Linked DNA regions of Homo sapiens. The protein of the gene in region 1 purifies or fractionates together with the protein of each later gene. This does not show direct contact. Each region holds a gene or a part of one and is shown on either strand. Other genes may lie near its edges.

Region 1 (3,676 bases):
ACTGGGGCTGTCAGCATCTTCTCCACCTAAAATGCTCCTGTAACAAGTGATAGGGTTTGGCTGTGTCCCCACCCAAATCTCATCTTGAATTGTAGCTCCCATAATTCCCACATGTTGTCAGAGGGACCAGGTGGGAGATAATTGAATCATGGCGGTTTCCCGCATACTGTTCTCGTGATGGTGAATAAGTCTCACGAAATCTGATGGCTTTTTACGGAGTTTCCCCTTTTGCTTGGCTCTCATTTCTCTCTTGCCTGCTGCCATGTAAAACATGCCTTTCTCCTTCTGTCATGATTGTGAGGCCTCCTCAGCCACATGGAACTGTGAGTCCATTAAACCTCTTTTTCTTTTTAAATTACCCAGTGTTGGGTATGTCTTTATCAGCAGTGTGAAAATGGATTAATAGACTAAGGCTTTGGGGAAAGCCTGTTCTTCATTCCCCTTCTCAGCTCCAAGGGGAAGGGAAACCAGCTCTTCAAAAAACTTCCTTGAGCAATGACAATTCTTGTTGCCCATTCCGAATGTTCCTCCATGCCTGACAAGAACTGTACATTTGCTGGCACTAAGTATTATATCTACAGCATGCTGCAAGGCTGACAGAGTGCTGCAAGACAAATGGGGGGGGGTTTATGGACTCAATGGTTTCATTTAATCATACTGTGTGACGTTCGCCTGGACCAAGACAGGGAATTTCTGTATAAAGGCCTAAGTCTGCATAGATGCTGCAATTGTGCATGCAGGTGCACATGTGTGGGTGTGCACACACATTCATCTATGTGCACACCCAATGAGCACAGATCAGTCTGTTTTGTGTGTTGATCAATTTGTTGAAAGATGATAAAACTGTCTGCATTAACTACGTCATGGCAGGAGGCCCCTTACCTTCTGCCTTTGATTTTATTTTTTTCTAAGGTTTGCATTTCCAGAATTGGGCTTTGCAATTAGAATATGATTTCTTGATGAAAATGAACTGGATAATGTGATAGATCTTATTCTGGGCTTTTTATTCTCTTTCGTACTTAGACTGTTGCCTCTGGGGCAAATATTCTGTCTTCTTTGCTTTGCACCATCCCAAGAACATCATCGATGCTGAACAAATAAATAACCAGAGTTGTGAAGTGAAGTCTGAAATTTATAGAACAGGCTCATCTATCAAAATTTGGACACCAGAACACAGAGTCAATTATCACATATTAACTTGCTCTTGTTGGCATTTCAATGCATTTAGAAAAGATACACTTCCTCCACACACACATTCCCCTGCCATACCGAAACACCAGCAAAATTGAGAACACTTCAGACATATCTCAGCTTTCCCTGTGACTCTAAAAACTACTACACACAGCAAAGCTTATATCTGTTTATAAAAGATGACCCTGAAGAGTCTATTTCACATCCAAACTTCCTTAGAATGGAGAGCATCCTAAAGATAACCTTAGATTTGGAAAAACATTTTCATGTAGATAGTCTTACTTGATTTTTATAAGGTTGCAAAGCAGTTCAGGCATCATTGCCATTTCACAGGTGAGCAGACTGACACCCAGATATGTGAACTGACTTTCTGTTAACATGGAAGGAGGGAAGGAAAGAGAAAAGGAAGGGAGGAAGGGAGGAAGGAAGGAGGGAAGGAAGGAAGGAGGGAAGGAAGGAAGGAAGGAAGGAATGAAGGAAGGAAGGAAGGAAGGAAGGAAGGGAGGGAGGGAGGAAGGGAGGGAGGGAGGGAAGGAAGGAAGGAGGGAAGGAAGGAAGGAAGGAATGAAGGAAGGAAGGAAGGAAGGGAGGGAGGGAGGGAGGGAGGAAGGAAGGAGGGAAGGAAGGAAGGAGGGAAGGAAGGAAGGAAGGAAGGAAGGAAGGAAGGGAGGGAGGGAGGGAGGGAAGGAAGGAAGGAGGGAAGGAAGGAAGGAAGGAATGAAGGAAGGAAGGAAGGAAGGGAGGGAGGGAGGGAGGGAGGAAGGAAGGAGGGAAGGAAGGAAGGAAGGAAGGAAGGAAGGAAGGGAGGGAGGGAGGGAAGGAAGGAAGGAGGGAAGGAAGGAATGAAGGAAGGAAGGAAGGAAGGGAAGGAGGGAGGGAGGGAAGGAAGGAAGGAGGGAAGGAAGGAAGGCAGGCAAGGAGGGAGGGAGGAAGGAAGGAAGGAAGGAAAAGGAGAAGGGAAAGGGGAGAGAGGGAAGGAGGAAGGGAAGGGAAGGAATAAAGAGGAAAGTATGGAACTATCTTTATAGCAATTGATTAATTCCTCAGCCCGATTTAGTAACAGCAGCAGCATCAGAAACTAATATTTTTAATACTAACAGAACTAATAGTGATAACAGGAGTGTTGTAGTAATTAGTAGCAATAACAGTAGTAACATTACTGCCTTGTCTTTATATATCATAGAATTTTCCAGGGCAATTTCATGTACAGTTTTGCATTTATTCTTCACAACACGTTTCTAGGATAGTTACTACAGGTCCCATTCCATGATGAGGAAGCTGAGACTTGGGAGAATCACCTTTCTTCAAATCATACAGCACCTAGGTGACCACCTCTGGTCTTCTGACTGTGGTTCCCTGTCCTGGTTCCCTCATCAGCCTGGTGTTGCTTTGCCCACCTGTCCAAGCAGCTAGGAGATACCACCCTGCAGCTCTTACCTCGGGGAGGAAATGTGGGTGGGGGAGAACCCAGGCCAGACACATAGTTGAGGTAAGCATCAGAGATGGCATGGCAGAAAGACAGCAAATTGGAGAGAACCCACTGCAGAAGGCTGGGCTCTCTGGTAGTGGCCTGAACGGGAGTGGTTCCCAAGAAGGATCAGGCTAAGGACAAGAAGGTGCAGACTCTGTCTCCTGGTCTCTCCAAATGATGGTGTCTTTCTGGCTATATCACTCGGCCTTCAGCTTTATCTCCATTTACCCACAGAAAGAAGCCCCTCCTTTGGGTTAAGGGTAAAGCTTTTGATTTTTCCACTATCTGGATTTCAGCCTCCTGATCAGGAAGTTATCACCAGGGGCTTTGATGTGGGCAGATCATACTAAGATCCACACTGCCTGCAACTCTGCACCTCCCCCTTTGGAAAGCACAGTCCACTCCAATGGGTGCAAGGGTTCTTTGGCTATGTCTGCCCAGTGGACCCTGGCTTTATGATGGCAAGCTGTGAACTGACAAGGCAGTGGACAGAGAGCGGAACATCCTGTCACCCACCGTACCTAGCTCATGGGATTCAGGAAGAAAGTAAGAACATGGGTTTTAAAAGATTCCAGAAATCCCCATGATTTCTGCAGTTAATGTGTATGACTTGGTCATAATAAAAAGAAATGTACAAAAATGTTCTTTACATACAGAAAGATGTTCTGGAGGTTATGGAAACAGCATCTAAGTGGGGTAGTATTACCCTGCACAGAAATGGCAATCCACAAGCTAAACACTTGACTCTAGGGGTGTGGATTTGTAACTGAAAGAAGCACAAACCACACAGCCTTTTCCTGACACTGGAGCCTCCCAGCCTTCCTGGTCAAGCAATGGGGAGAGGGCAATTACGACCAGACCTCTAGGATAGTCTTTTAGAAATATAAAGTGGGGAAAGGTGGTAGAGGGGGAGAGAAGAGAGAAGCAGAGCTGTCAGCATGCTTGATGTTAAATAAAACCTACCAAGACTCAGCTGAGAATTTTAGCAGAATCCAAATGTGCTAAAAAAAAATA
Region 2 (3,676 bases), on another chromosome or scaffold:
TCTTGACAAGCACTGAATTCAGTGGTGTGCCAGTGTGCTAGGGAGTGGCCTAAAATCTAGATGTGGGCCTTGGTCAGTTTACGTTTGGAATGGAGAATCTTGATTGACCCAGCAGTCCATTTAAGTGGAGGTTGGCAAGGAAACTTGGCCTGAACTTCATTTTCTGGTTTGAAGGCAATGACATGCTTTCATTCTTTAATCAGGAACATGTGAACCGACTGGCATTCTGTATTCTGAATTCCTCCTGGGACATTAGTGATGTGTTTTTTTGTAACTTAGGAATTGTACCTAATTTATTTTTTAACCAAATAGCATATCTTCTTGAGATGGCTAGCTGAGAAAGAGTATGACACAAGTGTGATCAAGGATCAGCAAAATTAACTACCCATGCAAAGATTAAACCTGTTACCTTTACTTCCCTAATGTGGTATTTTAACTAGCTGAGCTAACCACCAATGGAGTGATGGTATGGCCTTTCCTGTACTCAATTCAGTAATTGAACAGTTATTTATCGAACCCTCTCCAGATGCCAGGCACCCTGCAGAAAGTAACATTCTGAAAAGGAACAGCCATGCCTGTAGCCCAAAAGTGAGTAGTTGTATTAATGGTCCATTCCTTATTAACAAATTAATTTCCTCAGGAGTTTATTGGACCAGATATCAAAGTCCCACTGGAATGTCTTAAGTGAGAGAGAGGATAAATCAAAGTTTTCCTTATCCAGGCTTTTTGGATGTCTTTTTCCTGAGCCTCCTCTTCCAAGCCTGTTTTGCTCTCAGTCAGGATTTACCAGCACTCTGCATGTGTAGGCACGCTCACCTGCTTCCTTCTGTAGTGGTAATGACAACCTACATTTGTATTCTGCAGTTGATAAAGCCTGTTCGTGGTACAATACCTCATTTGACCCTCCCAACAACTGTAGGGTAGATGTTATCTACATGAAATTGAGTCTCAGAGAGGGTAAGTAACTCACCCAGGTTACACAGTAAGTAACAGAGATGACACACGAGTTCAGCTTTTCTGGAGCTAAGTTCTCCTCTTCCTCCACCCATGCCCAGCCACTCATATCCTAGGTGTAGATCAGAAGGTTCTTAAAAATATTGTTAGACTGAGCTTTAAAAGCAGTTTGGATCAGAGATTTTCATTGTCTGTTTTGTGTTCACATGGCAGTCGAAAGTCTCTAGGTTCCATTGCATTATACCCTTCTTAGAGGCTCCAGAATAAATTTTTTTATAGTGGTGGGGAAAAGCCCTTATTCTTAGAATAAGAATATAGATCATTGGTAATAGTAATCAGTTCCATTTCTTATGAGATACTTGTCAGGATTAAATGACATAATGAATTTAAAGTATATTGCCTGTCATAGCAAGCACTCTGTTACTGTTAGCTATTATCATTTATGACTATTGCTCTATGTTGTTTTTTGTTTGTTTGAAGAATGGGCTCTTAACCTTGTACGAGAAAGAAAAGGGTGAGGAAGAAAATGGATTGAAGGAATTGTAGGAGACTAAATGTTAAAAGTCATTAAACTACCTTCTGGTTTATCTAGAAATCCAATTGAGTGATTTGTTAGTAGACATGAAACAAAGATAGCTATGATTTTAATGAGAAGCCTTCATATTCAGAAAAGCTGCGTGGGAATTTTTGATACATACAATAACAGTTTGAAAGTACTAGCAGAGTTTACTTAATGAATTCTACTTTGTATTATTTAATAAAAATGACCCTATAATATATATGTCATTTCTCCTATTTTATATCTGATATAAAATATCATCTATTTTATAACTGATCTGCCTATTTGGGGTGGAAGATTAAGAAATACAATTCTTATGTGTGTGTGCATTTTTAAAATTAATAAACTTAGCTCTAGGTGGATTATTTTATATTTACTTTTACTTTTTTTTTGTTTTTTTTTTTTTGAGACGGAGTCTCGCTCTGTCTCCCAGGCTGGAGTGCAGTGGCGCAATCTCGGCTCACTGCAAACTCCGCCTCCCGGGTTCACGCCATTCTCCTGCCTCAGCCTCCGGAGTAGCTGGGACTACAGGCGCCCGCCACTACGCCCGGCTAATTTTTTGTATTTTTAGTAGAGACGGGGTTTCACCATGTTAGCCAGGATGGTCTCAATTTCCTGACCTTGTGATCCGCCTGCCTTGGCCTCCCGAAATGCTGGGATTACTGGGATTACAGGCGTGAGCCACCGCGCCCTGCCTACTCTTACTTTTGAATATGTACGTTTTGTAATTGTTAATGAACTAGATTCTTAAATAGTGTTGACATTGTTGGGACTTTGGATAGCCACTCACTTTTTCAGACTAATAGGGCATAATTTACTTTATTGTTTTCTATTACCTGAGATTGTGTTTATATATTATAAGAAAATCATTTTGGAGAAAAAAGGAGCCAAGATGCATCCTTTTGTTCTATGGACTGTAGTGATCTAACAGTTGATGCCCTGCTGCCTTCATTTACCCTCATTCCAGGAAAGTGGGCTATAGCTGGTTTGAACTTAAATTTTGCGATAATGTAGTGTTCACTGCAAAATTCTCTGTACCAGCCACATTTTAAACAAAGTGGAGGCAGCAGTTAGATTTCGTTGCTTAGCCTTTTCCTGTGGCAGTAAGTGGGATCACAGACTGATAGAATTTTATAGCTGAAAGAGACTTTAGGTACATAGGTATCTTTATTTTATAGATCTTGAAACTTCCCCACGATCAATGGGCTTGCTGGTTAAAAAAGCTGGGAAAAGACCCAGATCTCCAATCAGCTGCCTGCTCTGGAGAAAACGAACTCAAACCTTAGCCACCTTAAATATACCTTTTTTAGAAGTACGCAATGTATAAACACAAGTGAATAACTTAAAGAATAGTCTGTTGAGATGAAACAGAATAGTCCATATTTTGGGTGTGTGGAAGGTAATGCATGTCAAGGTCTACGTCTTCAAGAATTGTAACTCTTGGGGGACCACTGCCAGTTTGCAAACAATTCCACTCCTGGAAAAGGTTTAAGAGAGTTTCTCTCCTTTATGGAGTGCATAGCTAATACTTTTCAAAATAAGTGGATTCTCAGTCGTTCTGGTGAATTTTTTTAAGTTTAAATATTAATATCTCCAACATTCAACTTTATATTTTCAGGGATCGATTTGCTTAGTGGTATAATACCTGAACTCTGTCAGAAATATCCAGATTTAAATTTCATAATTGGAGGAGAGGGACCAAAGAGAATCATTTTGGAAGAAGTTCGGGAAAGATACCAGCTGCATGACAGGTATTGATGAATTTCATGTTGTCTTGAGGGAGAAGATGTCAATTATCTCTATTTGGTTTTAACTGCATGCGTACCTTAGGTGTGTTGCTTCTCCTGCATGTAATTGATATACATATAATTGATATAAATCTAATGCAAGGACTGTTTTCAAAATTTTTATATAAATAGGAAACCTAGTTAATTCACTATTTTTTCCATTAGCCCAATATTATTTGACTTTGGGGGGCCATTGTTGGAGGCACCATGAAAGGCACAAAAAACAGCTGCTTTAACTGGAAGCGTTTGCAGATTTCCAGGCCATACTGTGTAGTGATTTAAGTAATAGGGCTCAAATCATGTAAATTGCTCTGCACATACAGATTTGGACAAGTCTCTTCCTCAGTAACTTACACAACACAAGGCTTGTACGTGT
Region 3 (3,676 bases), on another chromosome or scaffold:
GTCCCCTTAGTTATTTTAATTCTATTTTATTTTTTATTACTTATTTTTGAGACAAGGTCTCACCTTGACACCCAGGCTGGAATGCAGTGGCTCAGTCATGGCTCACTGCAGCCTCAATCTCCCAAGACTCAAGTGATCCTCTCACCTCAATCTCCCAAGACTCAAGTGATCCTCTCACCTCAGCCTCCTGAGTAGCTAGGACTAAGGTGTGTGTCACCATGCCCAGCTAATTTTTTTAATTTATTTTTTGTAGAGGCCAGGTTGGCCCAGGCTGGTCTCAAACTCCTGGGGTCAAGCAGTCCTTCCACCTTGGCTTCCCAAAGTTCTGGGATTACAGGCATCAGCCACCATGCCCAGCCCTTAATATTATTTTTAACTGACATGTCATAATTATGTATAGCTTACCTATTCTTTTTATGGCTGCATAGTTCTAAAGGAGATAGGAAAAACCAAAGCATAGGAAAAATACTTTGGTTTTTCCTACTCTGACACTCTGGAGTACTTCACGTTTGGGCACCAATACGTGTGTGGGGATTTTTCACCACCAATAACTAATTCTCCAGTGGACACCAGCTGGGTGTCCTCTAATTCAGTTCAGTTCTGACACTTTCCACCTGGACACAGCGTCAGATCCCACAGGCTAAGGGCTTAGTTCCACAAGACTGCCCCCCTTCAGATGCCAGTTGTAAGCCCCAGGTTGTGATGTGTGATTCTGACCAGCTGGGTATAAAGAGGTTGCCATGACTTCCTCTTTGGGTTTGATTAATTTGCTTGGGACGTCTTTGGGGCGGCTCACAGATCTCAGGGAAACACCTCCACTTACTGGTTTATTACAAAGGAAACATGAAGAGGCAGATGGAAGAAGTGCATAGGGCAAGACATGGGGAGGGGGAGAGGGGTTCAGAGCTTCCCTGCCCTCCCTAGGTGCACCTCTATCCAGGTCCCATACCTCTGTGTGTTCAGCTATCCAGAAGCTCTCCAAAGCTAGTCCTTTTGGGTTCTTTTGCAGGTTTCATCACACAGGCATGATTGATTACATCATTGGTCACTGGTGATCAACTCAACCTTCAGTACCCCGTTCCCTTCCCCAAGGTTGGGGGATGGGACTGATCTCATGGTTGATACCCCTGGCAACCAGCTCCCCTGTTGAGGCTATCCAGGATCCCCCAGCCATCAGTCATCATTAGCATCCAAAAGATACTTACCACTTTGGAGATTTAAGGATTTTAGGAGCTGTTCCAGGAAGCCAGAGGAACTTACAAGTCATAATATCACAGGTGTTCCACAGTATAGATATACCTTAATATAACCATTCCTCTAACATTTAGGTAATTTCCAATTTCATGTTAATCCCAATAATGTTCTAGTATACATCCTTGCACATATATTTCTTTGCACATGTGTATTTATGTAGAATAGATTCCTAAAAGTAAAATTACTGTGTCACAAGTAATTGTATTAACTCCTTACAACCTGATGATAATCTTTTTTGGTTTTGCTACTAAAAATATAATTCATCTTAATTTGCATTTTCATCTTACTAGCATCTTTGCTAGTTTAGGTCTGGGTGGGTTCAACATCTTTGTGATAATTGGCTATATATGATTCTCTCATGACTTGCTTACGTAGAGCCTCTGGCCATTTTTCAATTGTGTTGGCATTTTGTAACTATTAGTATATAAGAGCTCTTTTGTCTGTTATACATATGTAATGCACATTGCAGATTTTTTTACTAATCCCAGCCTATCGTTTGTCTTTTGCTTATTTATGGTATCTCATCATACAAAAGCTTTAAATTCAAGGCCTAAGTAATTCATGTTATTCCTTTACAGCATGTAGGGTTTTTATTTTGCCTACTAAGTAGGCCAGACTTTCCTATCTTAAAATTATGGGGCTTTTTTTGTTTGTTTTTTGTTTTTTAAAGACAGGGTTTTGTTCTGTTGCCCAGGCTGGAGTACAGTGGCAGTGCTATCAAGGCCCACTGCAGCCTTGACCCTCCTGGGTTCAAGCGATCCTCCTGCCTCAGCCTCCCAAGTAGCTGGGACTACAGGCACTTGCCACCCTGCCTGGCTAATTTGTTGTTGTTGTTGTTGTTGTTGTTGAGACACAGTCTTGCTCTGTTGCCCTGGCTGGAGTGCAGTGGTGTGATCTTGGCTTGCTGCAACCTCCACCTCCTGGTTTCAAGCAATTCTCATGCCTCAGCCTCCTGAATAGCTTGAGATTACAGGCGCCCGCCACCATGCCTGGCCAATTTTTGTATTTTTAGTAGAGATGGGTTTCACCATGTTGGCCAGGATGGTCTCGAACTCCTGACCTCAAGTGACCCACCCGTCTCGGCCTCCCAAAGTGCTGGGATTGCAGGCGTGAGCCACCGTGCCCAGCCATTTTTTTAAAAAAAATTTATTTTGTGTAGAGACAGGGTCTCACTATGTTGCCCAGGCTGGACTCCTTGGGCCCAAGCAGTCCTCCTGCTTCAGCCTCCAAAGGTGCTGGGATTACTAAGGGCATGAGCCACTGTGCCCAGCCATTATATTTTCTTAAAATTTATTTATTTATTTATTTATATATTTGAGACAGAGTCTCGCTTTGTTGCCCAGGCTAGAGTGCAGTGGCACAATCTCTGCTCACTGCAACCTCAACTTCCCGGGGTCAAGAGATTCTCCTGCCTCAGCCTCCCGAGTAGCTGGGATTACAGGCGTGCACCACCACAGCCGGCTAATTTATGTATTTTTAGTAGAGACAGGGTTTCACCATGTTGGCCAGGCTGGCCTCGAACTCCTGACCTCAGGTGATCCACCCACCTCAGCCTCCCAAAGTGCTGGGATTACAGGCATGAGCCACTGCACCCAGCCAAAATTTATTTTTTAGCATTACTTTTCTGTATACTTTTAAAGCTAGAGTTCTCATTTTGTTTCCCAGACAGAGGCCATTTTTCCATTAGTAATTTATCATTGACTTAGAATGTTACCTTATTATAAACTAAATTTCCATATATGTTAGTCTTTTTCTGGACTGTTTTCTGTCCTAGTGATCTATTTGTCTATTCCTGTGCCAGTAGCACAGTTTTAATTACTCTCATGTTTTGTTTTTGTTTTTGAGACAGGGGCTAACTTTGTCACCCAGGCGGCAGTGCAGTGGCACGATCTCGGCTCACTGCAACCTCCACTTCCCGGGTTCAAGCGATCCTCCCACCTCAGCCTCCTGAATAGCTAGCTAGCTGGGACTGCATGTGTCCCATGCCCAGCTAATTTTTTCTATTTTTAGTAGAGATGGGGTTTTGCCATGTTTCCCAGGCTGATCTTGAACTCCTGGGCTCAAGTGATCTGCCCGCCTTGGCCTCCCAAAGTGCTGGGATTATAGGTGTGAGCCCCTACACCTGGCCTACTATCATGTTTTAATAAAACCTTTGAGAGCTACTTAAGACAACTTTGTCTTCTCCCCATTGTTCTTTTAAAAAAAATCTTATGGCTGTTCTTGCAGTTACTCCCCTGTGAACTTTAGAATCTGTTTGGTTCTATAAACAACTAACCCCCGTTGATGTTCTTATTAGAATAACACTGAATTTACAATGCAGGGTCCTAGATTCAATCCAAAGACGTACTCTCTGGTCAGGGATTTTAAGTAACAAAAAGAGCAACACTATCTAAAGACCTAAGGTTGTGTTGTGGTGGTGAGT

The links. Proteins that work in one complex are often made in the same cells at the same time.
Region 2: the proteins of HS3ST2 (region 1) and PIGA purify together in Homo sapiens (affinity purification with mass spectrometry; 2 studies listed by BioGRID and IntAct, with this or other methods). This does not show direct contact.
Region 3: the proteins of HS3ST2 (region 1) and GINM1 purify together in Homo sapiens (affinity purification with mass spectrometry; 2 studies listed by BioGRID and IntAct, with this or other methods). This does not show direct contact.

Annotation. Positions count from the first base shown.
Region 1 is NC_000016.10:22,817,120-22,820,795, reverse strand, and holds part of HS3ST2 (heparan sulfate glucosamine 3-O-sulfotransferase 2), read right to left. Parts: exon of another isoform or gene 2,343-3,676; intron 1-2,342. UniProt on the Homo sapiens protein: Sulfotransferase that utilizes 3'-phospho-5'-adenylyl sulfate (PAPS) to catalyze the transfer of a sulfo group to an N-unsubstituted glucosamine linked to a 2-O-sulfo iduronic acid unit on heparan sulfate.
Region 2 is NC_000023.11:15,325,502-15,329,177, reverse strand, and holds part of PIGA (phosphatidylinositol N-acetylglucosaminyltransferase subunit A), read left to right. Parts: exon of another isoform or gene 1-864; coding exon of another isoform or gene 865-957; intron 958-3,131; coding exon 3,132-3,264; intron 3,265-3,676. UniProt on the Homo sapiens protein: Catalytic subunit of the glycosylphosphatidylinositol-N-acetylglucosaminyltransferase (GPI-GnT) complex that catalyzes the transfer of N-acetylglucosamine from UDP-N-acetylglucosamine to phosphatidylinositol and participates in the first step of GPI biosynthesis.
Region 3 is NC_000006.12:149,586,721-149,590,396, forward strand, and holds part of GINM1 (glycoprotein integral membrane protein 1 precursor), read left to right. Parts: intron 1-3,676.